Homo sapiens: one gene and its partners. Changing the gene in region 6 together with the main gene of any one other region gives a genetic interaction. Each region holds a gene or a part of one and is shown on either strand. Other genes may lie near its edges. The genes, in order: RPLP2, EIF3H, MFAP1, EMG1, RBM17, BDP1 and BNIP1.

Region 1 (4,114 bases), on a different chromosome or scaffold from region 6:
TCCTCTGCTGTGGAACAGAGGAGAGGCATGGTGAGCACTGCCCAAGTGCCAGGCCAGTCCCCCCATGAAGACCCCACTGCAGCAACACCGTCTGAGCCCCAGCCCCTTGCCCACTCACCAGGCCACCACTTACCTGCAGCAGGGGCAGAACCAGCAGCAGGGGCTGCAGAGCCTGGGGCAGCAGAGACGGCTACAGCCCCACCAGCAGGTACACTGGCAAGCTTGCCAATACCTACAGAAAGCAGAGAGGTGAGACCAGAGCAGCTGCCCAGCCTGGGAGGCTGTTCCACAGGGAAGTTAGATGGCACCAGAGATGGCACATGGCACCCAACATATCTGGACCCACCATATGCCAGTGTCTCCCGTTCTTCCTGAACACTCCCTCCCTGAGCCACTCCTCAACGGGGACTTCTCTTCCCCACCTTTCCTATCCAGGGACTTGCCTTCTAGGAATTAGGCCCACACTGCCTGCCTGCCCAATTTCCCCACCTCCACCCTCAGAGGTCCACTGGACAGACATGTTCATAACTAGGTAGGGAATGAGTGTGCTGCCCCAGTATCCACATCTCTGGCCACAACGCTGTGTTCATGGCTTGGCCCGTTTGCTGAGCTGGCCCTGTCGTGGTCACATGCATGGAAGACAAGAACAGCTGCCCCAACAGCTCAACTTCCAAACAAGTTCCACCAGCTCAGCTGAAGCCAACAAAAAACCATCTGCCCAACAAAGAGGCAAGGAGCCTATGGACATCCCTGGCACCCTCAGTCCCTGCCCCCAACCCCCTCACAGAAAGCATGTGGTAAGGACTGCTGACGTGAACTCAGTTCTCCAGACACCAAGCTTCAGACAAATCCTGGGGAATGGCCTCAGGGCTAGGAGCAGTCAGGCTTAAGAGGCAGGGCCACCTAAACGTCTGCTGAGAACACAGGGTGCCCCCTGCTGCCCTGCTCCTGAGAGTGTCTAGAAGTGCCCATGACGTGAGCCCACTGGAGCCCTGCTCACTCCTCGGGTGAGGCTTCTAGGGTGCTCTGGTCCACAAGCGAAACCTGGCAGGCCACAGATGGACCGGCAGGGATTAGGATGGACCATGAAAACAAACGAAAGCCCGTCCACATCAACTCACCCTGGGCAATGACGTCTTCAATGTTTTTTCCATTCAGCTCACTGATAACCTGAAGCAGACAATCACAGGGCTGTTACCAGGAATGTACGATTGTATCCCCGGCCCTCTCCCTCCCAGAGTCACAGCAGGACTGGGTTCCCCACATGGGAATAGGCCCTGAAGTTTCCAGAACTGCACTGCCCAAAGGGAGCCACCAGCCTCACTTGGGAAGTGATATAAAAATAAATGGACACTAGCTTTCTTAGACTTAGGACTGACAAAAGGACACAGGGCATCTCACTACTTATGTTGACTACTCATAGGTATCTTCAACACTGGCAAAATAAACTGGCAATGAAATTGACTTTGACTTCAGGCTGGAGTGCAGTGGTAGGATCTCACTGCAGCCTTGACCTCCCGGGCTCAAGTGACTATCCCACCTCAGTCTGGGACTACAGGCATGAGCAACCAAGCCTGGCTAATTTTTTATTGTATTTTAGAGACGAGGCCTGGTTCTGTTAGACTGCAGTGGCACAATCACTACTCAGTGCAGCCTTGACCTCTAAGGCTCAAATGATTCTCCCGCATCAGCCTCATGAGTAGCTGAGACTACAGATGTGCACCACTGCCTCCAACCATTTTTTTTTTTTTTTTTTTTTGTGGAGACCGGGTCTTGCAATGTTTTCCAGACCAGTCTCGAACTTCAAGGCTCCAATAATCCACTCGCCATGGCCTCCCAAAGCCGGGTGAGCCATGCGCCAGGACTGCTTTTTTTTTTTTTTAACGCAATCTTACGCAGCTCACTGGTATTAAACTTCCAAAGCTTGTTAATCACGATTTTGCCTCGTACCCACCCTGCTTTTTTTTTTTTTTTTCCTTTTGAGACAGGGTCTCCTTCTGCCACCCAGACTGGAGTACAGTGGCACGATCCGTGCAACCTCCATCTCCCGGGTTCGAGCGATTTTCCTGCCTCAGCCTCCCAAGTAGGGGGACTACAGGCACCCACCACCACGCCCGGCTAATTTTTGTATTTTTAGTAGGGATGGGGTTTCGACATGTTTACCAGGCTGGTCTCGAACCCCTGACCTCAGGTGATCCGCCTGCCTCGTCCTCCCAAAGTACTGGGACTACAGGCGTGAGCCACCGCGCCCGACCTCCGCCCGGCTTACTTCTCTATCCAAGAAATCGCCAACTAGACTGAAACGAGCCTCTCCCCGAACCCTCCAGCATGTGGCCGGATCAGGCAGAAGAATCGCCTGTATGGGACACTGGGGCCCCACGGCGGCTGCGGGGCAAGGGCGGCCGCTACCTTGTTGAGCCGGTCGTCGTCCGCCTCGATACCCACGCTGTCCAAGATCTTCTTGATGTCCTTGGCGCTGGGGGAGGAGTTGCCCCCTAGGGCAGCCAGCAGGTAGGAGGCGACGTAGCGCATCCTGAGGCGGGCGGAGAGGACGCGACGGCGGAGTTACCCCGGCGGCCTCCTGCCGGCCCATCCCGGGGCCGCCGGGCGAGGCCGCGCGTGGCTCGGCCCGTAGGCCTCCGTCCCAAAAATACCCCGCCGCCCACCCCGCATCCCCACGGACTCCGCGTCCCCAGCCGGCACCCCGGGCCCGGTCACCACACTCACGCGGCGGCGTCTGCGGCGGAGGCGGCGGAGAAGTCTCACGCGTGCGACCTCGGTGGCGACAGGGAGGAAAAGGAAGGCGCCGACGCAAGAGGCGGGGTTAAACCGCTACCCAGAAGGCTCTGGGACCCGTGCGCGGCGCCGCATGAGGCGCCTCAGAGTGACGTCACGAGGCGCTCAGCCAATGACGACGGGGAGGGAGTCGTTGACTCCTTCCCCCTCCCCCTTCCCAGCCCCCGTCAGGCACTTTTCGCGGCAAAGGCGAAGGGCAGCAGTTCCGGAAGTGACTGCTCTTATAGCGTGGGGCGAAGGGCCACCGAAACTCGTGGGGGCGTTGGACGAAGCGAGTCCAAAGGGACGGCATCTGCCTTCGGTACCTAGCACCCCCAGCATGCCACGCGGCGCCTACAGCTCCCAACATGGAGCGCGGCCGCCACGCCCGGGACTCAACCTTTGCCAGCGAACTGCAAGTCCCATGGTGCACCGCTGCCGGAAGTGGCCTGCGCCGCGGGCCTACCCGGAACGGCGCGTGGGCCCGGGCAGAAGCTGCTGGCGGTAGGCTCGCCTTGACTCCTTGGTGGTTCCCTGGCCGCGGCGACCGGTGGTCCCACGTCCAGCCGGGCTCAGTGAGGTGAGCCAGCCGCCTCGGACTTAGCGACTGCGGCCCTATCTGGGAGGCCGCCCCCGCACTGCGGTGTCAGGGCATCCTGTCAGAGGACGAGCGCGGGCCTTGGAGGGCAGGACAATGACGTGAGGCAGCGTCGCCCGCTCACCCCTGCGAGGAGTGAGGTCTGAGTGGTCAGCCCCTGCGCTGGCCGCTTTGGCCCGGAACTGACCTCGGTGTCCATGTGGACATCAGCACCTCAGGGACCCCGCTACATTCTCGGGTCCTGGGAGGGAACAGGGTTGGCCCTGCCTCCTAAGGACTTGAGTTCTTGTGCGAGGACGCAGGAGGTGAATAGGGAGGCGATCCGAAGGACAGGGACAGAGGGAGACTTGGTCCTCTGGGCAGCCTGAGAAAGCTTGAGCTGAGAGATGAGAAGGAGCCATCCCTGCCAATATCCCGGGCGAGCACCAGGAACAGGGTCAGATGCAGGTATCTACCGTGTTAGCAGGCAGCGCCAGCTCCCGTTGGGCTCTAACAGCAGTGCAAACCCTGGGGTGTGTATACGTCAAGCACTGGAACTCGACTTCACAGTCGCCTTCTGTGGCCTCGTTATCATTACCCCCATTTTATAGATGAGGCAGTTGGGTACAGAAAGGTTTTTTTGCTCAGGGTCACACATCTGGGGTAAAGGCGGGAAACCATCTTGGGAACAATGGGACTTTTCTTATTTTGTAATTTTTGAGACTGGGCCCCATTCTGTCGCCCAGCCTGGAGTGCAGTGGC
Region 2 (3,500 bases), on a different chromosome or scaffold from region 6:
AGAGCAAGCTTCTTCTCAAACAGTAAAATGCTATAAATCACCTGATTGTGTAGGTCAGGAGAGGGGCCTGAGATTCTGTGATACGTATGTCTGCATTTCTAACAAACTCAAGTGTAGCCAACATTGCTCATCTTACTGGACATGGATCATACTTTGAATAGCAAGGTCTAATGAACATAAGAAAGGTAAAATTCAAATGTTCTAGGGAACAAAGTGGGTTCAACATGAAAAGTTTAACGGGAAGAATTAGCTTGATCTTGTCTAGGAACAATGAGACCACCTGACAGAATGAAGACCCATTCTTTCTTTATTTTTGTTTTTTTTCTTTTAACTCATCTGTATTTGTTACAACTTTAAGCAGAATGTGACTCAGGCACTACATTTCCATCCACAAGACTAGCTCTGAGTTATTTTTGAACAGCTTTACGACATGCTTAGGTAGGCTTATAACTTTGCTCCTCCAAATGATACTTTTCTTTGGAAAACAAGCCCTGTGGAGGGCTTACTTTTCTTTGGAAAACAAGCCCTGTGGAGGGACTGCTACATTACAGATACAGAGGAAGTGATGAAACAGGTCTAAAGGTAGGAAAGGAAGGGTTCAAAAATACAAGAAAAATTGGTCTTGGCCACTATCAATGTGCCAGGAAGGAACAAATGTGTTAAAACATCAGGCTAAACATAGGATGAGATTAATCTCTGGGTTCATCTACATCTATATATGACTGAGAATGGTCATGAGAGTCGGGACTGGGTTCTACCTTGCTCACCTATATAATATCTTATATAGGTTACTGCAATATACCCCAGCATGTAGCAGGGCTAGACCTGGCATGTGGTCGGCAATCAATAAATATTTGTTAAATGAATGAAGAACAGAATACATCTGGAGTATACAGATTCAAGTTAAACTATATGGAGAATTTTTAAAAAAACAGAGTAAGTCGATTAAGTCACATTTTTTATTCAATATGTGATGATGAAAGAGAACAATTTCAAAGAGAAAGAACTTCATGAACAAAAGCAAGGTCATGCTTACTGCTTTGAATAAGGATGTGACTCTAGGTCTGTCTTTAGCATGACTTTTTTTTTTTTTTTTTTTTTTCTGAGACGGAGTCTCGCTCTGTCGCCCAATCTGGAGTGCAGTGGTGCAATCTCGGCTCACTGCAAGCTCCGCCTCCCCGGTTCATGCCATTCCCCTGCCTCAGCCTCCTGAGTAGCTGGGACTACAGGCACCCGCCACCACGCCCGACTAATTTTTTGTATTTTTAGTAGAGACAGGGTTTCACCATGTTAGCCAGGACGGTCTTGATCTCCTGACCTCGTGTGATCTGCCTGCCTTGGCCTCCCAAAGTGCTGGGATTACAGGCGTGAGCCACCACACCTGGCCTTTAGCATGACTTATTAAAGAAAAAACTAAGTAGTCTGAGGGGCTGGAATGTACAGTTCCTACAAAGCTTGGAAAGAAAGGAAATAAACCTGAACATAAATGCAAGAAACAAGGACAACATTTTGGTCCTTCAATTCAATGGAAAGTCACTGAAAACATCTAAGGAAAGAAGTTAAAATCTGAATGTTCACGTTAAATAAACGTTTTAATAAAAGTATGAGGCCGGGCACGGTGGCTCACGCCTGTAATCCCAGCACTTTGGGAGGCCGAGGCGGGCGGATCACGAGGTCAGGAGATCGAGACCATCCCGGCTAAAACGGTGAAACCCCGTCTCTACTAAAAATACAAAAAATTAGCCGGGCGTAGTGGCAGGCGCCTGTAGTCCCAGCTACTTGGGAGGCTGAGGCAGGAGAATGGCGTGAACCCGGGAGGCGGAGCTTGCAGTGAGCCGAGATTGCGCCACTGCACTCCAGCCTGGGCGACAGAGCGAGACTCCGTCTCAAAAAAAAAATAAAATAAAATAAAATAAAATAAAATAAAAGTATGAATGGTAGACTGAAGAAGGCAGGGGAAAACAATATTAAAATAACCTGCATAAGATATTAGAACATAAATTAGTATAAATAATAAAATGGAATACATACTCATTCATTTATCCTACTTTGTGAATTAACAGGTTCAGCACTGGAGATAAAACAGGTGAAAAAGCATAGTCCCTGCCCTCAGTAGCATACATTCTGATGAGGAAAACAAAGAAGAAAACAAACAAGATAGTTACAGGCTGTGGAAAATTCTAGAAATATAGGGTGCTGTGATGGAAAGTAAGGAGAAGAACAAGTCTATAATTCTATTTTGTACATGTTAAATATGAGATGCCTATGAGATATCCAAATAGTGACGTCAAACAGGCAATGGGTATTCAAAAGAGGCATTCAAGAGCCATTACTGGCAGAAATATAAATCTAGGACTTATTAGAATATAAATATTTAAAGCCGTGAGCACAGATAAGAATACCTTAAAGAATACTACTATAATTACTGCAAATAAAGCAGCAGCAAAGCTTAAATGGTGACTTATTCTGTCCCAGACATTGTTCTAGTTATTGACATATATTCAATCCATTTAAAGTCTCAAAACAATTCAGATGAGGAAAATGAGGCACAAAGACTTGCCCAATGTCATGCAGCAAATTTCAGAGCTGGGATTCAAATCCAAGCAGTCTGGCTCCAGAGCATGTACTTTTATCAACTTCGTTACACTACCTATGTCAAGCAGAGACTAAAAGAAAAGCCAAAACCTAAACCATGAGGCACTCCAATATGCACAGATGGAGAAGAAACATAAAAGGAAAGGAGTAAGTGGCCTAAAAGGAAGGATAGTGATTGACTGGGGTCACACACCAATAAGAACCCTCAGGATTCAGGTATGAAAGCAAAAGAAAGAAACCATAAACCATGAAAATTGATAGGGATAGTGGCAATCATTTTGTGGATGAGAAAATGTACCTTTGGAGTAAAACAATCATAGAAGTGTTGTTAGTTACTGGTGGATGCAGACTGGAATGCATGTCTCCTGATTACCAGGAGCACTGAAGTGCTCTTTCTACAATTCCAATCTACATTAGCAAAGTTAGCATTCGAAATGATTTGAGAAACATTAATAAGGATGAGAGTGGTAAAGACACAGTAATCTGAGTGTTTACGATGACACAGGTACTATACTAAACACTTTAAATACCTCGGAATTTCATTCTCACAACCCTTATGAGTTACTACTTTATCATCATCCCCATTTTACAAAGGATACACCTGAGGCCTAGAAAATTTAATAACTTCCCCAAGGTCATGCTTACTGCTGGAATAAGGATCTGAATCCAAGTCTGTCGTCAAGATTCTCTTGGCTAGTATGTAATATTGCTTTCCTAAGAGTAACACTGTTCATCAAGACAGAAATGAAGAAAGAAAGAAAGAAAGAAAGAAAGAAAGAAAGAAAGAAAGAAAGAAAGAAAGAAAGAAAGAAAGAAGAGAAAGAAAGAAAGAAAGAGGGAGGGAGGGAGGGAGGGAGGGAGGGAGGGAGGGAGGGAGGGAAGGAAGGAAGGAAGGAAGGAAGGAA
Region 3 (3,500 bases), on a different chromosome or scaffold from region 6:
CGTCTTTAATCCATCTGGAATTTTTGTGTCTGTGGTGGAAGTTAGAGGTCTAATTTTACTATATGGTTGGCCAATTGTCCCTTCTCACCCCATCCATTTTCTACTGATTTTTAATGCCATCCCTATAATATACTCGAGTTCTCATATAAGTTTGTTTTTCTTTTCTCTGTTACATTGATCTCTGTGTACTTCCTGGGTCACTGACATATCTGGTAAACTATGCCCCACCCCTCCTTCCCCGCCCCCATCAGCTTTATTCTTCTTCAGCATTGTCTTGGCATTTTGGGGCCTCCTGTTCTTCCATATGATTTTGGAATAAGCCTGGAGACAACTTTTAATGGAATTGCATTAAAATGATAGATTATACATTTATAGGTTAATTCAGGTGCAGTTGCCATCTTCTCATCCTTGAACATGAAATATTTCTCTATTTACATCTTTTTTATCTTTCAATAAAATTACATATTTTTCCTCCTAAAAGCCTTGTACATTGTTTGTTGGATTTATTCCACAGTATCTTATAGATTACTTGTGACCGTTAATGGTATTTTAAAACTATATTTTCTTCAGCCTGGGCAACATAGCGAGACCCCAAAAAATACAGTGCTCTACAAAAAAACAAAATTACCTGGGTGGTACCTGTCTGTAGTCCCAGCTACTGAGAGGCTGAAGAGGGAGGCTCACTTTAGCCCAGGAGGTTGAGACTGCAGTGAGCTGTGATCATGCCACTGCACACCAGCCTGGGTAACAGAATGAGACCCTTTCTCAAACAGTAGAAAATAAGCCAGGCATGGTGGCTCACGCCTGTAATCCCAGCACTTTGGGAGGCCCTAGGCAAGAGGATCACTTGAGTCCAGGAGTTCAAGACCAGCATGGGCAGCATAGTGAGACCTCGTCTGTACAAAAAAATTTTAAAAATTAGACCGGCATGGTGTTGCACGCCTGTAGTCCCAGCTACTTGGGAGGCTGAGGCAGGAGAATGGTTTGAGCCTAGGAGGCTGACGCTGCGGTGAGCCATGATTGCGCCACCGCACTCCACCCTAGGCAACAGAGTGAGACCCTGTCTCAAGAAAATAAATAAAAATAAAATTGTACTTTCTAATTATATGTAGCTAATGTACAGGTATGCTTATTTTTATAAATAAGTTTTTTATCTAGCATTTTTTCTGAACTCTTTTATCTATTTGTTATCTTGTGTTTTCTACAAAGACAACCATATAATCTGCAAATTATGGCAGTTTCTTCCTTTTAAATCCTTATAACTTTTCCTTATTGCCCAAATTAGAACCATAATACAGTGTTGACTAGAAGGTGTGATAGGTACAACATTAGGATGCTCACTGGTTTTTTTTGTTGTTGTTGTTTGTTTTTTTTGAGATGGAGTCTTACCCTGTCGCCTAGGCTGGAGTGCAGTGGCGCGATCTCGGCTCACTGCAAGCTCCGCCCCTGGGTTCACACCATTCTCCTGCCTCAGCCTCTTGAGTAGCTGGGACTACAGGTGCGTGCCACCACACCCGGCTAATTTTTTGGTTTTTTGTTTTTTTGAGACGGAGTCTCGCTCTCTTGCCCAAGCTGGAGTGCAGTGGTGCTATCTCGCTCACTGCAAGCTCTGTGTCCCGGGTTCACGCCATTCTCCTGCCTCAGCCTCCCAAGTAGCTGGGACTACAGGCACTCGCCACCATGCCTGGCTAATTTTTTTGTCTTTTTAGTGGAGATGGGGTTTCACTGTGTTAGCCAGGATGTTCTCAATTTCCTGACGTTGTGATCCGTCCGCCTTGGCCTCCCAGAGTGCTGGGATTACAGGCGTGAGCCACCACACCCAGCTGGATGCCCACTGATTTTTAAAGAGAATGCTTCTGGCCAGTCACAGTGGCTCACACCTGAAATCCCAGCACTTTATGATACTGAGGCTGGCAGATCACCTGAGGTCAGGAGTTCAAGACCAGCCTGGCCTACATGTTGAAACCCTGTCTTTACTAAAAAATACACAAATTAGCCAGGCATGGTGGTGGGCACCTGTAATCCCAGCTACTCAGGAGCCTGAGGCAGGGAGAATTGCTTGAACCCAGGGGGCGGAGGTTGCAGTGAGCGGAGATCATGCCACTGCACTGCAGCCTGGGCAACAGAGCGAGACTCCATCTCAAAAAAAATAAATAAATAAATAAATAGAATGTTTCTATTGTTTTATCATTAAGTATAAAGTCTGCTGTATCTATTATTTTTTAAAAATGTGACTTTAAAAAATAGTAGGCTAGGAGAGATGGCTCACACCTGTAATCCTAGCACTTTGGGAGACTGAGGCTGGAGGATCACTTGAGGCCAGGAGTCCAAGGCCAGCTTGGGCAACATAGCAAGACCCTTTCTCTACCTTTTAAAAAATAACAAACAAAAATAAAATTTTAAAAAGTAAAAATAGTATATTGCTTCCCTCCCATTGTTCATCTATCTATCTATGTACATTTTTTTTTGGAATTTTGTTTTGTTTTGTTTTGTTTTTAAAGACAGAGTCTTACTGTGTTGCCCAGGCTGGAGTGCAGTAGCACGATCTCAGCTCACTGCAACCTCCACCTTCCAGGTTCAAGTTATTCTCCTGCCTCAGCCACCTGAGTAGCTTGGATTAAAAAGTCTGTGCCACCATGTCTGGCTAATTTTTGTATTTTTAGTAGAGACGGAGTTTTGCCATGTTGGGCAGGCTGGTCTCGAACTCCTAGCCTCAACTGATCTGCCCACCTTGGCTTTCCAAAGTGCTGGGATTACAAGCATGAGCCACTGTGCCCAGCTATATATATTTTTGTGTTTGACACAGGGTCTCACTCTATCACTCAGGCTAAAGTGAGTGCCTTGGTGTGGTCATGGCTTGCCGCAGCCTCAACCTCCTGGGCTCCAGTGATTCTCCCACCTCAGCCTCCCATGTAGCTTGGGACCACAGGCATATACCACTATGTCCGGGTAATTTTTTTTGTTTTTAGTAGAGATGAGGTCTAAACCCAGGCTGGTCTCGAACTCCTGGGTTTAAGCAATCCTCCTGCCTCAACCTTCCAAAATGCTGCGATTATAGGCATGAGCCACTGCACCTGGCCCCCTCATTAATTTTCTAAGGTCAAACTATCCTTCTAGTCTTGGGCTAAATTCTAATAAGTTGTGTTGGTCTAGGGGTTTTTTTTTTTTGTTTCTTTTTTTTTTTTTGGTAGTTTTTATATTGCTGGGATAAATTTGCTCTTACGTTATTTAGTATTTTTGTATTTGTGTTTGTAAGTGAAATCCACCTAAAGTTTTCCTTTGAACTGTCCAATTTGGTTATCAAGGTTATACTCATAAAATAAGTTGGTTAGTTTTCACTGTCTTTGTTCACTAGAATTGTTTGTATTTGTAGGCTGGGTGCTGTGGCTCACGCCTGTAATCCCAGCACTTTGGGAGGCTGAGGTGGGCGGATCATGAGGTCAGGAGATCGAGACCATCATGGCTAATACGGTGAAACCCCATCTCTACTAAAAATACAA
Region 4 (3,262 bases), on a different chromosome or scaffold from region 6:
TCAAGGCTGCAGTGAGCTTTGATCACACCACTGCACTCCATTCTGGGCAACATAGCAAAATCCTGTCTCAAAAATATTTATCAGTAGGAAATGCAGGAGGGCACAGTGGCTCATGCCTGTAATGCCAACGCTCTGGGAGGCCAAGGCAGGAGGATCACTGGAGGCCAGGAGTTCAAGACCAGCCTGGGCAACATAGTGAGACCCCATCTCTACAAAAAAAAATTATCCAGGCAAGGTGGTACATGCCTATAGTCCCAGCTACTCAGGTGGCCAAGGCAAGGGGATCGCTTGAGCCCAGGAGTTCAAGGCCACAGCGAGCAATGACTATGCCTCTGTACTCTAGCCGGAGTGGCAGAGCAAGGCCCTGACTCTAGAAAATAAAAATTAAAATGGTAAAAAAAAAAAAAAAAAAAAAGTTTAATTGCCAGAAGAATTCCTTCACTGAGAACTTGTCCATCCTGTGTTTCAGCATCAATTCAACCAAGAAATGAAGGAGCAGATTCAAAGTGGTTATTTTTATTATCTTACCTCCACTGGGTTTTCAGTCCCAATGGAGATTGTGAGACCTGGCAAGACCTTGAGATCAGTAGCATCCCTGAGGGGTAAACACAAGACTGGTCCACTGTCTGCTGCCCTGACTTTCCTACAACTCTTAAGAGGTTTGCAGTCCCCATTCCTCATAGCCAGCCATAGAAATCTTTCCCTGAAACAGGAAACACTTTGGGCAGCAGAGCTTCTCATCCCATTCCAGGTAGACAACCACACCCCTAAACACTCCTCTCCATAACTGAAGGTCAGAGGGTGAAGGGAATAGTCTCTGCTCTCTGTGACCAGGAACTTCACTCGTTCCTTTCCAGCATCATTCCTGCTCTCAAGCGCCTGAGTCTGGGCCTTTTCTACCTAGTGGGCTACACACTGCTCAGCCCCCACATCACAGAAGACTATCTCCTCACTGAAGACTATGACGTGAGTGTCTACTAAAGCAGCAGCAGCATGACTGCACCAGAGCTAGAAAATGGACAGGCAAGGATCCCTACAGATAGCAGAGAAGTAGGAAATATCATCTACAAGTGCATGTTGGTTTTGCTCTAGATCTGTGAGTTGTCAATGCCAGCCGTGCTGGGACATGTTCATCAGCCAGCACTGAACAACCTTCGCGGGCACAGGGCTGTGCCAGGTGCACATTTAGCACCCGTTGCCTTCTCTAGGAGCCGCTCCTAGCTTGCCTTATCACATCCACGTGACCCCTCAGAGCACAGCAGCTTCTGATTCTCCATCCTATTTTCTTCTCTTGACTGATACATTTGGGCACTTCTAGGGAATTCAGAAACCAAGGGAAGGGGGGAAGTGCTGGCTTTTGCTCCTGCCCAGCTGAAAGGCTTGAAAACAGTTCAGTAATTCTGGGCAGGTTTCTCTCCTTAAATTAAAATCCAATATGGGCCCCTCTGTACTTAACATTCCAAATGCTCATTCCAAACACTTTGCCAACGAAGGCAAACAGTAGAGAAGTTAAATACAGTGCTGCCCTTGAGGCTCTCCAAGGGAAAGGCGAATGAATATTCTCCAGGCCCTCTGCTTATTCCTCTCTGCCTATTGTGAAGGCAATCAGGCCAGACTATTGAGGGCATCTGGCAGCAGGACTCAGGCAGGTATGAAGTAGCCAGCCACAAGTGTGAAAAGGAAGAGTGCTGAGAGAAACTGCCTAGTCATGTGATATCCCTAATGCACTGTGCTTTCTTCCCTCAAGAACCACCCCTTCTGGTTCCGCTGCATGTACATGCTGATCTGGGGCAAGTTTGTGCTGTACAAATATGTCACCTGTTGGCTGGTCACAGTAAGTAGAAAAGTTGAAACAAGGTCCTATTTAGACAAGCCATGGGGGCCAGTATGGGGAGTGGCAAGAGCCCTAACTGAGCTATTCCCTCTCAGGAAGGAGTATGCATTTTGACGGGCCTGGGCTTCAATGGCTTTGAAGAAAAGGGCAAGGCAAAGTGGGATGCCTGTGCCAACATGAAGGTGTGGCTCTTTGAAACAAACCCCCGCTTCACTGGCACCATTGCCTCATTCAACATCAACACCAACGCCTGGGTGGCCCGGTGAGCTGCTGGTGGGGAGCCTGGACCCTGGTTCCTTCCTTCCACTGTCTTCCCAGATTGGAGGGCAGGGGTGTACCATGTCACCCCTATGCGTCTTTCCCATCTGGGCAGAACCCCCTGTCGCTCACACTGACTTTGACCCCCACCTATACCCCCCTCCCAAAAAAACCATTACTGTCATATTTGAAAAAAAGGCAAGATATAAAAGTGCGTTAAGACCTGGGTGTTACTCCAGCTCTGCCAATGGACTTATGTCCTCCACTGCCCTGTTTATCAACAGCTTTACTTGTTTGTCCCCACCACTAGAGTGTGGGCAGCTTGAGTAGAGTGTCTGGTTCACCACTGATCTCAGCATCAGCCTCAGTCACTGCTGCTGAACCAAGTGGCTCGTGCGCACACGGTCTCCAGCTCCGCCTTGGGTCTGCTTTCCATCTCTAAAAGTAATCAGTCAGCACTGCCTCCTGTACCCTCTGGGGGCTACACGTGGGAACCCACCAGCACTCCAATCCAATCCTCAGGGTGAGGACCCAGAGGCAGGTGGCGGGATGCAAGGACCAGTCAGTTTGAGGGTCGCCCCACCCACCCTTTTCTCCAGCTACATCTTCAAACGACTCAAGTTCCTTGGAAATAAAGAACTCTCTCAGGGTCTCTCGTTGCTATTCCTGGCCCTCTGGCACGGCCTGCACTCAGGATACCTGGTCTGCTTCCAGATGGAATTCCTCATTGTTATTGTGGAAAGACAGGTAGGCCTCCAGGGTGGGGGTGAAGGGGAATATAAGGGACAAGATGCTGATGAGCTCCTCCTCCCTCCCCAGGCTGCCAGGCTCATTCAAGAGAGCCCCACCCTGAGCAAGCTGGCCGCCATTACTGTCCTCCAGCCCTTCTACTATTTGGTGCAACAGACCATCCACTGGCTCTTCATGGGTTACTCCATGACTGCCTTCTGCCTCTTCACGTGGGACAAATGGCTTAAGGCAAGTGAAGGCCTGCTTGTGAGACTGGGAGGGACTCACTGCAACCTCAAAGGTTGCAAAGGACACTCCAGGCCTGTCTACCTTAGTGGCCTCTCTCTCCACAGGTGTATAAATCCATCTATTTCCTTGGCCACATCTTCTTCCTGAGCCTACTATTCATATTGCCTTATATTCACAAAGCAATGGTGCCAA
Region 5 (3,500 bases), on a different chromosome or scaffold from region 6:
TTCATTTGAGCAGTCGGCCATCAATACCCCTGGACAGTCTGCTTTCCCTGCTTCTCTACGGCCTTGCGGGGACCTTTCATTTAAAAATCAAAATGGAGAGGTTTTAGTTAATTTGAGGGTTCACGTATGAAGGAATGGAAGAAACTAAAAAGTGGTGACAGTTTTCTGGGGTGCTGACTTCAGGCAGGGAGTTACTGTACTTAAGACCAGGGCAGTTCTTCTGAGGGAACAGAAGTTGGTGTGCACTCCGTCCCCCACTCCACACAGTGTGGTACCAACATCAGCGAAGGTGTTGGGGCGGCAGGGTCTTAGAATCCCTGTAATGGGGGAGCTGAGAAGTAAGAGTACCTTCAAGAGAAATGCTTGCCGAATCAGACCTAAGGAGGGTATGTGTTAAATATTTTCCTCCTCTCCTGAGCCACAGAACACAAGCAAATTAGGCTTTTCAATAACACGGTTTCCATGGGAAAATGCTTTATGGGCCCCCTGGGAACTGACAGACTTATTTGTCCATAAACTGGGAACTACTGTGCTAAGCATTTACTTGCAATTTGTGGGTTTCTGTTTAAATTAAGTTCTCTTTCTGTCTGTGAGATTGATTTCTTATTTGAAGAAGTAAGCTATGTTGGTGGGTTTCAGAATGTTGATTTTTTTTTTAAAAAGTGGCAGTTGGGGTTCACTGGCGAGGGCTCTGGAGTTGGCCTGGCTGGGTTGGAAGGGGCTTCCGCTGTGGCCTTGGGCAGATTGATTCCCTAAACCCCAGCATCCATGTCTGTGCAGTGCTGGGCTTTCATGGGACCTGCTGCCGATGCTGCATTGCATGTCATGCTTTGCGCCTGCTGACTCGGTTTTTGTTTCCACGTGTTCCTCTGTTCTGCACGGAAGCTGTGTGTTGCTCGTTCACATGCAGATTGTTGATTGTCTCTTTGTAATCACTATCATTAAAGATGACAGATTTCCACTTGGTGTGATATGAGGAAATCAGAGTATTTAAGATGTAACCAGTCTACTCCCCCCTTGATAATTGTAATTGACAAAATCACATCTAAGAGATCATTTCTGTCATTTTTTTCCCTAGGAGTACGTTTAAATTTTTTCTTTATAAAAGGGTAGCTAATTGTGCTACATCAACCTGCTAATTGGTGTTTTTGTAAAGCTTCTACTTTTTGGCACTGACATAAATAGAATTTTTTAAAAATTGGATATATGTAATTAATAATGTTCCAATTCTTACCTCATTATGTGCCCTAGCATTGAAGGATTTCACTCATGGATCACTTGACTGCATGATCTTATAGATGGAAAAATGAATTTTAGAGGCTTATTTTAAAAATAATCCATGGTCTAGCTTCATGTATCAGGAATAGCCCTACATTAATGGTACCAGGAGCCTGGGCCTCTGTTGCTGAAAGGTCCTGGACCTTTTACCTCTAAAATTTCATGATACTTATTTTAACATGAAAAGCCTTTATTGAATTGTGCATTCTTTAATCCCCACCCCTTTTGCCTTTCAGCATTAAACTGAAGAAAAGATGTCCCTGTACGATGACCTAGGAGTGGAGACCAGTGACTCAAAAACAGAAGGCTGGTCCAAAAACTTCAAACTTCTGCAGTCTCAGCTTCAGGTGAAGAAGGCAGCTCTCACTCAGGCAAAGGTAAAGACAAGCCCAGAGCATGAGAGCAGAGGCCTCCAGAGTGGGTTCCTCATTAGGATGACAAGGAATTTGGTTTCAGCTTGCTCTTCTGCCTTTGTATTGGGTAAATGGTGTTAAGCATTTGTAGGGGGAGAGGAATGAGGAGTTTAAGGCCACTTTGCTACTCCTGGCTCCTGGGAATAGGAACATTTCGTGGGGTAGGAATGAAGAAAAACAGTACTCTGCGGGGGCTGGGCGCAGTGGCTCACGCCTGTAATCCCAGCATTTTGGGAGGCCAAGGCAGGCAGATCACGAGGTCAGGAGATCCAGACCATCCTGGCTAACAAGGTGAAACACCGCGGGCGCAGTGGTGGGCACCTGTACTGCCAGCTACTCGGGAGGCTGAGGCAGGAGAATGGCGTGAACCCGGGAGGCAGAGCTTGCAGTGAGCCGAGATCGCGCCACTGCGCTCCAGCCTGAGCGACAGAGCAAGACTCCGATTCAAAAACAAACAAACAAACAAACAAAAAAACAGTACTCTGAACCAGCAGTGACACTGCTTTTCAAACTTAAGTAGTGGAGGTCTAAGATTGAGTGAGAACTTGTTTAAGGTGCTAATTTTGTAGCCTTACTCCTGATATTCTGGTAAACTGTAGTTCAGGCTGGAGCCCCAGGAGTGGGAATTTTTAAGTAGCATTCCTACTGGTTTGGTGGAGGTAGTTTGGAAGCAGCACTTTGGGAAGAAGCTCCACAGAATACCTAAGCTGCTGCGTGCAACTTATTGAGGGCTCAGGTTGATTGTGAAGGCGTCAGGCATAGGTAGTCTGGATGCTGATTGCTTTTGTTTCTGTTGTGTACATGTTGGGTATTGGCAATGTCCTTGAAATAACATGTAAAACATTAAAAACCTAGTTGTCGACTGGATATTTGCCATTAAAATGTAGGCATGAGAATGGTATTATGGTTTGTTTACTACTTTAGAGATCTTTATGTTCTAGAGTATGCATTCGTAATGGAGGCTATATCCCCCCAAACAGAGCGAATATTGGTCTTTTTGGGGGTGAAAAAACCTTGCTCGTGTTGTGCACAGTGTATCTGTGGTGTGAAAATTTCATGTGCGGGAGAAAATTTAGTCAAAGGCTCCTTGCTGGGGAGGCAGTAATTAAAGTTGAGAAAAAGTACTTTAGAGATGTGTACTGAAATATTTACCGATAAGATGATGTCATTTTTGGGATTTACTTCTAAACAATTCAGTCCCGGGCAGGGGAGGGAGGGAAGAACAGAACTACCCATGAGTTGATAATTGTTGAAACTGGATGTGGATAGTAGAGACTTAAGAATTAATATTAATCTCTAATTTCATGTTTGAAAATTTCCGTAATACACAGGTTTTTTGTTTTTTTTTTTTTTTTTTTTTTTTTTTTTTGAGACGTAGTCTCACTTTGTAGCCCAGGCTGGAGCGCAGTGGCATGATCTCAGCTCACTGCAAGCTCCGCCTCCCAGGTTCACGCCATTCTCCTGTCTCAGCCTCCTGAGTAACTGGGACTACAGGCGCCCACCACTGCGCCTGCGGTGTTTCACCTTGTAAGCCAGGATGGTCTCGATTTCCTGACCTCGTGATCCGCCTGCCTTGGTCTCCCAAAGTGCTGGGATTACAGGCGTGAGCCACCGTGTCCGGCCAATACACAGGTTTTTTTTCTTAAAAGTTCTACTCATTTTTCTTTTCCCTTTACCACATCAATAGATACTTACATGGAAGTGCTTACATTTGATTGTTCAGTATTGTAGAGAGGTTTTTTTGTGTTTTTAAAATTCATCATTACCAAATTTAGATTTTTTGGATGCCAGTATTTTGTGTTTTTTTTA
Region 6 (3,500 bases):
AAGCTAGATGTTTCTGGATGGAGATGAAAAGTATCATAAATCAAAAAATGGAATGCGGTCCATTCAGGACTAATCAAATTAAATTTCCTTTATTGATTGCTGTTAATTTTACATTTAACGTTGTCAATTGCTAAAGTTAATGATGGATATAAACACTTCAGTTATGTAAACAAGTACAATTTGAAAAGCAATCTTATTCCTAAGGACCTGTCTTACAGTATCAAAAATTGCATTATTGAAAACAGTTATTTCAGTGAGGAAGGATAGTATAGGACCTAAAGAAGTTGAAACAAGCAATAGCATACTTTTGTTGTTTTGTTTTTGTTTCTGTTTGAGACAGAGTCTTACTCTGTTGCCCAGGTGGAGTGCAGTGGCATGATCTTGGCTCACTGCAACCTCCGCCCCCTGGGTTCCAGCTATTTTCCTGCTTTAGCCTCCCATGTAGCTGAGATTACAGGCGCGTGCCACCACGCCCTGCTAATTTTTGTATTTTGAGTAGAGACAGGGTTTCATCATGTTGGCCAGGCTGGTCTCAAACTCTTGACCTTAAGTGATCCACCTGTCTCAGCCTTCCAAAATGCTGGGATTACAGGCTGAGCCACCATGCCCAGCCTAGCATACTTTTAAGTAAATCTTTTGCTTATTTGTTTTGTTTTTTGTTTGTTTGTTTTGAGATGGGATCTTGCTCTCTTGCCCAATCTGGAGTGCAGTGGCATGATCATGGCTTACTGCAGCCTCATCCTTCCTGGGCTCAGGTGATCCTCCCACCTCAGCCTCCTGAATAGCTGGGACTACAGGTGCACGCCACCTCACTTGACTAATTTTTTTTTTTTTTGTAGAGATGGGATTTCTACCAAAAACTCATGGGCTCAAGCCATCTGCTTCAGCCTCCTGAAGTGCTAGGAGTACAGGCATGAAGCATCATGCCCAGCTCAATACGTCTTTTTTTAAGCTGTTGAATGTATAGTTATATACCTGTTCAGTCCGACATGGCCGAATACAATCTAGTGTTTCATTTGATCTAGCTTTTGCCCAATATTAATAACTTTTCCTAACCAGTCATTTAAAAGCCCTTTCATTCATTTATATGTTTATTGATTTTACCATCTATTATAATAAACAGAAAGCAAAACAAAAAGTGCTGCTGCTTTTCTGGAGAGCAAGGTGCTTGCTTTGGATAGTGGTTGTGTGCCCAGTAGCATTCAGCAAAGTATTATTGTGTATTTGGTCTGTCCTTTGATTCTTTACTTATGTTATGAAATAACAAGCCTTTAGAGAACTATCTGTATAGGAAATCTCATATAAAATTGGTTTTAAAAGGTGAGGAGGGCAGACCTCATTTGTAGTCCTAAGATTTAATCTTGGTCAAGTCATACTTGTATCCAGGTATTTGAGGTGGTCAGGTCTATTATGGCAAACCATTTGTCTGTATAAAAGATAGAAGGGATGAAGAGGTAGAAATAGCAGACATACATCAATCTAGCTCCAATGCAGAGAACTGGAGAGTCTTTCCCAGTCAGTATTTATAAATGGTAGTGTGAATGACAATTGGAAAGACACTGTTAGGATCAAATAGCTTCTATACTGATTGACCTTACTAGATATATATATATATTTAAACTTATTGCTGTGATTTCAAAAGGTGGGATTTTTTTTCTTTTAATTTTTAAATTTTACCCAGCGATTCCTAGGCCTTCCTTAATTTTTTTGAATTTGAGAGTTTCTGGTGTTTCTGTAGTGATTTCTCAAACATCATCTCTTCAGCAGGCAGTCTGGTTTAAAACTTGATTGTGTGCCCCCTTTTTTTTTTATAGCGTTCAAGAGAATAATAAGGCAAATAAACTTAACCAAGTCCCAATTCTAAGGACTCGATTTCAGAAACCAAAGCCAAATATAGGAAGAGGAACTGGAAGGAGAGAAATTTCCTCAAAGGAAGAGGTACTAGAGAAGATTCTTGTCTCTGGGGAAATGGCGGCAGCATTGAGAGAAACTGTAAGACTAGACACCTCACCAAAGGAGATGGTACCAGCAGAGATTAATACTAAAGAAATGCAGTCAGATTTAAAAGAAACTGGAAGAAGAGCCATTTCTCCCAGGGAGAAGATTCTAGATGTGATTGATGACACCATAGAAATGGAGACAGGTCTGAAAGCAATGGGAAGAGAGATTTGTCTAAGGGAGAAGACGCCAGAGGTGATTGATGCCACTGAGGAAATAGACAAAGATTTGGAAGAAGCTGGAAGAAGAGAAATATCCCCACAGAAAAATGGCCCAGAGGAGGTTAAGCCTCTAGGTGAAGTGGAGACAGATTTGAAAGCAACTGGAAATGAGAGTTCCCCAAGGGAGAAGACACCAGAGGTGACTGATGCCACTGAGGAAATAGACAAAAATTTGGAAGAAACTGGAAGAAGAAAAATATCCCCAAGGGAAAATGGCCCAGAGGAGGTCAAGCCTGTAGATGAAATGGAGACAGATTTGAACGCAACTGGAAGAGAGAGTTCTCCAAGGGAGAAGACACCAGAGGTGATTGATGCTACTGAGGAAATAGATTTGGAAGAAACTGAAAGAGAAGTATCCCCACAGGAAAATGGACTAGAGGAGGTCAAGCCTCTAGGTGAAATGGAGACGGATTTGAAAGCAACTGGAAGAGACAGTTTCCCAAGGGGGAAGACACCAGAGGTGATTGATGCCATTGAGGAAATAGAGATAGATTTGGAAGAAACTGAAAGAGAAATATCCCCACAGGAAAATGGCCTAGAGGAGGTTAAGCCTCTAGGTGAAATGCAAACAGATTTGAAAGCAACCGGAAGGGAGATTTCCCCAAGGGAGAAGACACCAGAGGTGATTGATGCCACTGAGGAAATAGACAAAGATCTGGAAGAAACTGGAAGAAGAGAAATATCCCCAGAGGAAAATGGCCCAGAGGAGGTCAAGCCTGTAGATGAAATGGAGACAGACTTGAAAACAACTGGAAGAGAGGGTTCCTCAAGGGAGAAGACACGAGAGGTGATTGATGCTGCTGAGGTAATAGAGACAGATTTGGAAGAAACTGAAAGAGAAATATCGCCACAGGAAAATGGCCCAGAGGAGGTCAAGCCTGTAGGTAAAATGGAGACAGATTTGAAAGAAATTAGAGAAGAAATTTCCCAAAGGGAAAAGGTGCTAGCAGAGTTCAGTGCTATAAGGGAAAAGGAGATTGATTTGAAAGAAACTGGAAAAAGAGACATTCCCATCATGGAGAAAGTATCAGGAAAGATGGCTGTTGTTGAAGAAATGGAGGCAGATTTGAAAGAAACTGGAAAAGAAAATTTTAGAGAGAGAGGATCTGAAGAGATCTGTGTTACTGAGGAAAAGGTGGCAGAATTGAAACAAACTGGAAAAACAGACATTTCTCCAAGGGAAAACGAGCTAGAGGAGACCAGTACCTCAAGACAAACTGACACACATTTAATGCAGAGCGGTAGCAATGACTTCAGTGCTGTGCCTTCACTAGATATTCA
Region 7 (3,500 bases), about 100 Mb from region 6:
CACCTGAGCCTGGGAAGTGGAGGTTGCAGTGAGCCGTGATAGTACCACTATACTCCAGCCTGGGTGACAGAGTAAGACCTTCTCTCAAGAAAAAAAAAAAAAAACACACACACACACACAAAAAGCCAATCTTTCAAAATATTTCTTCAAGGTTTGTTGTTCTTTCCATACTACAGACCAATCATGAATGACACAAACATGATGGATTAGCAGAGCCCTGACTGACACGGCGGATCTACAGTCTTCACCTGCGCTAACTTGTGGGTGATAACGGAAAGTTGGTGAACAGCTTCCTGGAGTTAGAAATGTGACAGTTGACCGGGCGTGGTGGCTCACATCTGTAATCCCAACACTTTGAGAGGCCGAGGCGGGTGGGTCACTTGAGGTCAGGAGTTCGAGACCAGCCTGGCCAACATGTTAAAACCCTGTCTCTACTAAAAATACAAAAATTAGCTGGACATGATGGCGAGTGCCTGTAATCCCAGCTACTCGGGAGTCTGAGGCAGGAAAATCACTTGAATCTAGGAGGCAGAGGTTGCAGTGAGCCAAGATCACGCCACTGCACTCCAGCCTGGGCAATGAGAGTAAGACTCCGTCTCAAAAAAAAAAAGAAATGTTGACAGTTGTTGATAGACTATAAAAAAGCTAACTGCGTCTCTCTAAGAATCAAACTCATACTTCAGAACTCTTATGTAGCCAGCTCAAACCAATTGTGCTAATCTCTGGAAATACTCAAAAATCAAAACACAGAGTACATGAACTGACAGGGTGGTTTTCTAATAGCACCTTTATGCTGAAGGTCTTAATGAGCACCTGCTCCGCCATTTCACACCTGCCACTTTAAAGAATCCATTACATTTTGAAACAGTTTGCAAGGGGGTTCTGCAGGACCCTGGGATCCAGAGATGAATGAGGGGCAGTACTTCTCCTCAACCACCTCACATTCATTTGGGAAAAAGACAAGCAAACAGATACTCACTGTATGGTGTGACAAGCATGATGACCCAAGCAAGCACAACTACTGCTTCAACTGCCAAAGTTGGTTTTTTTTGTTTTTTTTGTTTTTTTTTTGAGACAGGGTCGGCTGGGCACGGTGCCTCACGCCTGTAATCCCAGCACTTTGGGAGGCTGAGACCGGCGGATCATGAGGGTCAGGTGATCGAGACCGTCCTGGCTAACACGGAGAAACCCCATCTCTACTAAAAATATAAAAAATGAGCCAGGCGTGGTGGCGGGTGCCTGTAGTCCCAGCTACTCGGAGAGGCTGAGGCAGGAGAATGGCGTGAACCCGGGAGGTGGAGCTTGCAGTGAGCCGAGATTGCGCCACTGCACTCCAGCCTGGGTGACAGAGTGAGACTCTGTCTCAAAAAAAAAAAAAAACAAAAGAAAAGAGGCAGGGTCTCGTTCTGTCTCCTAGGCCAGGTGCAGTCACATGATCACGGCTCACTGCAGCCTTGACCTCCCGAGCCCACTGCCCTCCTGCCTTGGCCTCCCAAGTAGTTGAGACTACAGGCACACATCAGCATGCCCCCAGCTAATTTTTTTTTTTTTTAATAGATGAGGTTTTGCTTTGTTGCCCAGGATGGTCTTAAACTCCTGGGCTCAAGCAGTCCTCCTGCCTCGGCCCCCGAAGTGCTGGGATTATAGGTGTGAGCTACTGCACATAGCCCCAAAGTATAAATTGACAGCTTTCTCTGCTCTGGCCTGTAATGCTACATTGTGGATGGCCATTCCCAGCTTTAAACCCATGCTAAGCTGAGTGTGTCTGGCATAACTTACCATACTTTATACAAGGGCTCCTCTGTACTCAGTGTTTATAATCTGAGTAGGCTTGGTGGCTCAGGAAAGCAAAAGCCATCATAACATAAAGTATTCGTGAAATAGCCAAGCCCTGGATCACTGCCCACCACTCATACAGCCCTCCCTGCTTACACTGGCCTCCCTGTGCCTGTGTTTTTGCCAGTCGGTGTCTTCCTGACAGCTGACTGTTACATACACAGCTGCTTGCAGGGAAGATGATGCTGGCAAATTGCTCAAATCAGAAGCAAAGCCACAAATACAGATCTGGCAGAGGCAGACCAGTGAACAAGAGACAAAGAGAAAACCCATGGGAATGACAACTTAGCAGGGGTTTCAAAAGAGAATGATTTAGCCAGGCACGGTGGAGTGTGCTGTAGTCCCAACTACTTGGGAAGCTGAGGTGAGAGGATCGCTTGAGCCCAGGAGTTCCTGAGGCTGCAGTAAGCTATGACTGTACTCCAGACTGGGCAACAGAGAAGGACCTCATTTCCAAAATTTTTTAATTTTTTAAAAATAAAAATATTTTTTTTTTGTTTTTAAGGTGGAGTCTCACTCTGTCACCCAGGCTGGAGTGCAGCAATCTCGGCTCACTGCAACCTCTGCCTCCCGGGCTCAAGCGATTCTCCTGCCTCAGCCTCCCGAGTAGCTGGGATTACAGGTGTGTGCCACCACACCCGGCTAATTTTTGTATTTTTAGTAGAGAGGGGTTTCACCATGTTGGTCAAGCTGGTCTCGAACTCCTGACCTCATGATCTGCCCACCTCGGCCTCCCAAAGCGCTGGGATTCCAGGCGTGAGCCGCCGCACTGGGCCAAAAATGTATTTTTAAAAAAGAGAGAGAATGATCTGAATACCTCAAATATGTTTGGAAAAACCCTCTTTATGATTGGTACAAAAGTCAAATGTGAAGGGAAAGATACTGTTTCATGTTGTCTGACAATTTCATTGGAAAAGTTAAACCTCTCCCAATTCAATAACAAGAAATGGCATATAACTGTAACTATATAATCAAGGATTAGCACACACCTGCAATTACAACCTCGATTTTGGTTTTAATTTTTGACCTCAATTTTGTTTAATTTACGGTTTTTCTTGCATTTTATTTTATTTTATTTTTAGACAGCATCCCACTCAAAACCTTCTAAATTTTGGTCCACCTTCAGCAGGTTTTCTTTCTGTAGATTTTTTCTGGTACCAATTATCCTTAGATAAAAAATGACCCTGTATTACAAAAGCAATCATATTTTTTGATTAAAAATATACAATACAGTATAATGTTAAATATGCTTTTGTAAACTATGTTCAGCTCCACCTGCTCAGATAGGCCCTATTTATCCCTTCCCCACTCGCCCCCACTTGACTATTGCTGACTGAGAGAGAACATTCCACCAGTGTGTAACTGATGCAATTGGCTGGGCGTGGTTGCTCACACCTGTAATCCCAGCACTTTGGGAAGCCAAGGTGGGTGAATCACATGAGGCCAGTGTTAGAGACCAGCCTGGCCAACACAGCGAAACTCTGTCTCTAGTAAAAATACAAAAATTAGCCAGGCGTGATGGTGGGCGCCTGTAATCCCAGCTACTCAGGAGGCTGAGGCAGAAGAATTGCTTGAACTCGGGAGGCAGAGGTCACAGTGAGCCAAGATCAGGCCACTGCACTCCAGCCTGGGCAATAGAGCGAGACACCGTCTCTCAAAAAAAA

The links.
Region 1: changes in BDP1 (region 6) and RPLP2 together harm fitness less than expected from each alone (positive genetic interaction), as found in Homo sapiens cells (one large-scale study listed by BioGRID).
Region 2: changes in BDP1 (region 6) and EIF3H together harm fitness less than expected from each alone (positive genetic interaction), as found in Homo sapiens cells (one large-scale study listed by BioGRID).
Region 3: changes in BDP1 (region 6) and MFAP1 together harm fitness less than expected from each alone (positive genetic interaction), as found in Homo sapiens cells (one large-scale study listed by BioGRID).
Region 4: changes in BDP1 (region 6) and EMG1 together harm fitness less than expected from each alone (positive genetic interaction), as found in Homo sapiens cells (one large-scale study listed by BioGRID).
Region 5: changes in BDP1 (region 6) and RBM17 together harm fitness less than expected from each alone (positive genetic interaction), as found in Homo sapiens cells (one large-scale study listed by BioGRID).
Region 7: changes in BDP1 (region 6) and BNIP1 together harm fitness less than expected from each alone (positive genetic interaction), as found in Homo sapiens cells (one large-scale study listed by BioGRID).

Annotation. Positions count from the first base shown.
Region 1 is NC_000011.10:808,653-812,766, reverse strand, and holds the start of RPLP2 (large ribosomal subunit protein P2), read right to left. Parts: upstream 2,801-4,114; 5' UTR 2,728-2,800; intron 2,534-2,727; 5' UTR 2,533-2,533; coding exon 2,410-2,532; intron 1,171-2,409; coding exon 1,122-1,170; intron 1,087-1,121; exon of another isoform or gene 953-1,086; intron 233-952; coding exon 134-232; intron 8-133; coding exon 1-7. Other genes in the region: PIDD1 (p53-induced death domain-containing protein 1), read left to right, coding at 3,815-3,820. UniProt on the Homo sapiens protein: Plays an important role in the elongation step of protein synthesis.
Region 2 is NC_000008.11:116,749,324-116,752,823, forward strand, and holds part of EIF3H (eukaryotic translation initiation factor 3 subunit H), read right to left. Parts: intron 1-3,500.
Region 3 is NC_000015.10:43,818,191-43,821,690, reverse strand, and holds part of MFAP1 (microfibrillar-associated protein 1), read left to right. Parts: intron 1-3,500. UniProt on the Homo sapiens protein: Involved in pre-mRNA splicing as a component of the spliceosome.
Region 4 is NC_000012.12:6,977,175-6,980,436, reverse strand, and holds the end of EMG1 (ribosomal RNA small subunit methyltransferase NEP1), read right to left. Parts: coding exon of another isoform or gene 3,175-3,262; 3' UTR 3,071-3,174; coding exon of another isoform or gene 2,912-3,070; 3' UTR 2,840-2,911; coding exon of another isoform or gene 2,692-2,839; 3' UTR 2,097-2,691; coding exon of another isoform or gene 1,930-2,096; 3' UTR 1,835-1,929; coding exon of another isoform or gene 1,748-1,834; 3' UTR 967-1,747; coding exon of another isoform or gene 858-966; 3' UTR 501-857; downstream 1-500. Other genes in the region: LPCAT3 (lysophospholipid acyltransferase 5), read left to right, coding at 858-966, 1,748-1,834, 1,930-2,096, 2,692-2,839, 2,912-3,070, 3,175-3,262. UniProt on the Homo sapiens protein: S-adenosyl-L-methionine-dependent pseudouridine N(1)-methyltransferase that methylates pseudouridine at position 1248 (Psi1248) in 18S rRNA.
Region 5 is NC_000010.11:6,095,534-6,099,033, forward strand, and holds part of RBM17 (splicing factor 45), read left to right. Parts: intron 1-1,514; 5' UTR 1,515-1,532; coding exon 1,533-1,655; intron 1,656-3,500. UniProt on the Homo sapiens protein: Splice factor that binds to the single-stranded 3'AG at the exon/intron border and promotes its utilization in the second catalytic step. Involved in the regulation of alternative splicing and the utilization of cryptic splice sites.
Region 6 is NC_000005.10:71,507,651-71,511,150, forward strand, and holds part of BDP1 (transcription factor TFIIIB component B'' homolog), read left to right. Parts: intron 1-1,814; coding exon 1,815-3,500. UniProt on the Homo sapiens protein: General activator of RNA polymerase III transcription. Requires for transcription from all three types of polymerase III promoters. Requires for transcription of genes with internal promoter elements and with promoter elements upstream of the initiation site.
Region 7 is NC_000005.10:173,154,531-173,158,030, reverse strand, and holds part of BNIP1 (vesicle transport protein SEC20), read right to left. Parts: intron 1-3,500. UniProt on the Homo sapiens protein: As part of a SNARE complex may be involved in endoplasmic reticulum membranes fusion and be required for the maintenance of endoplasmic reticulum organization. Also plays a role in apoptosis.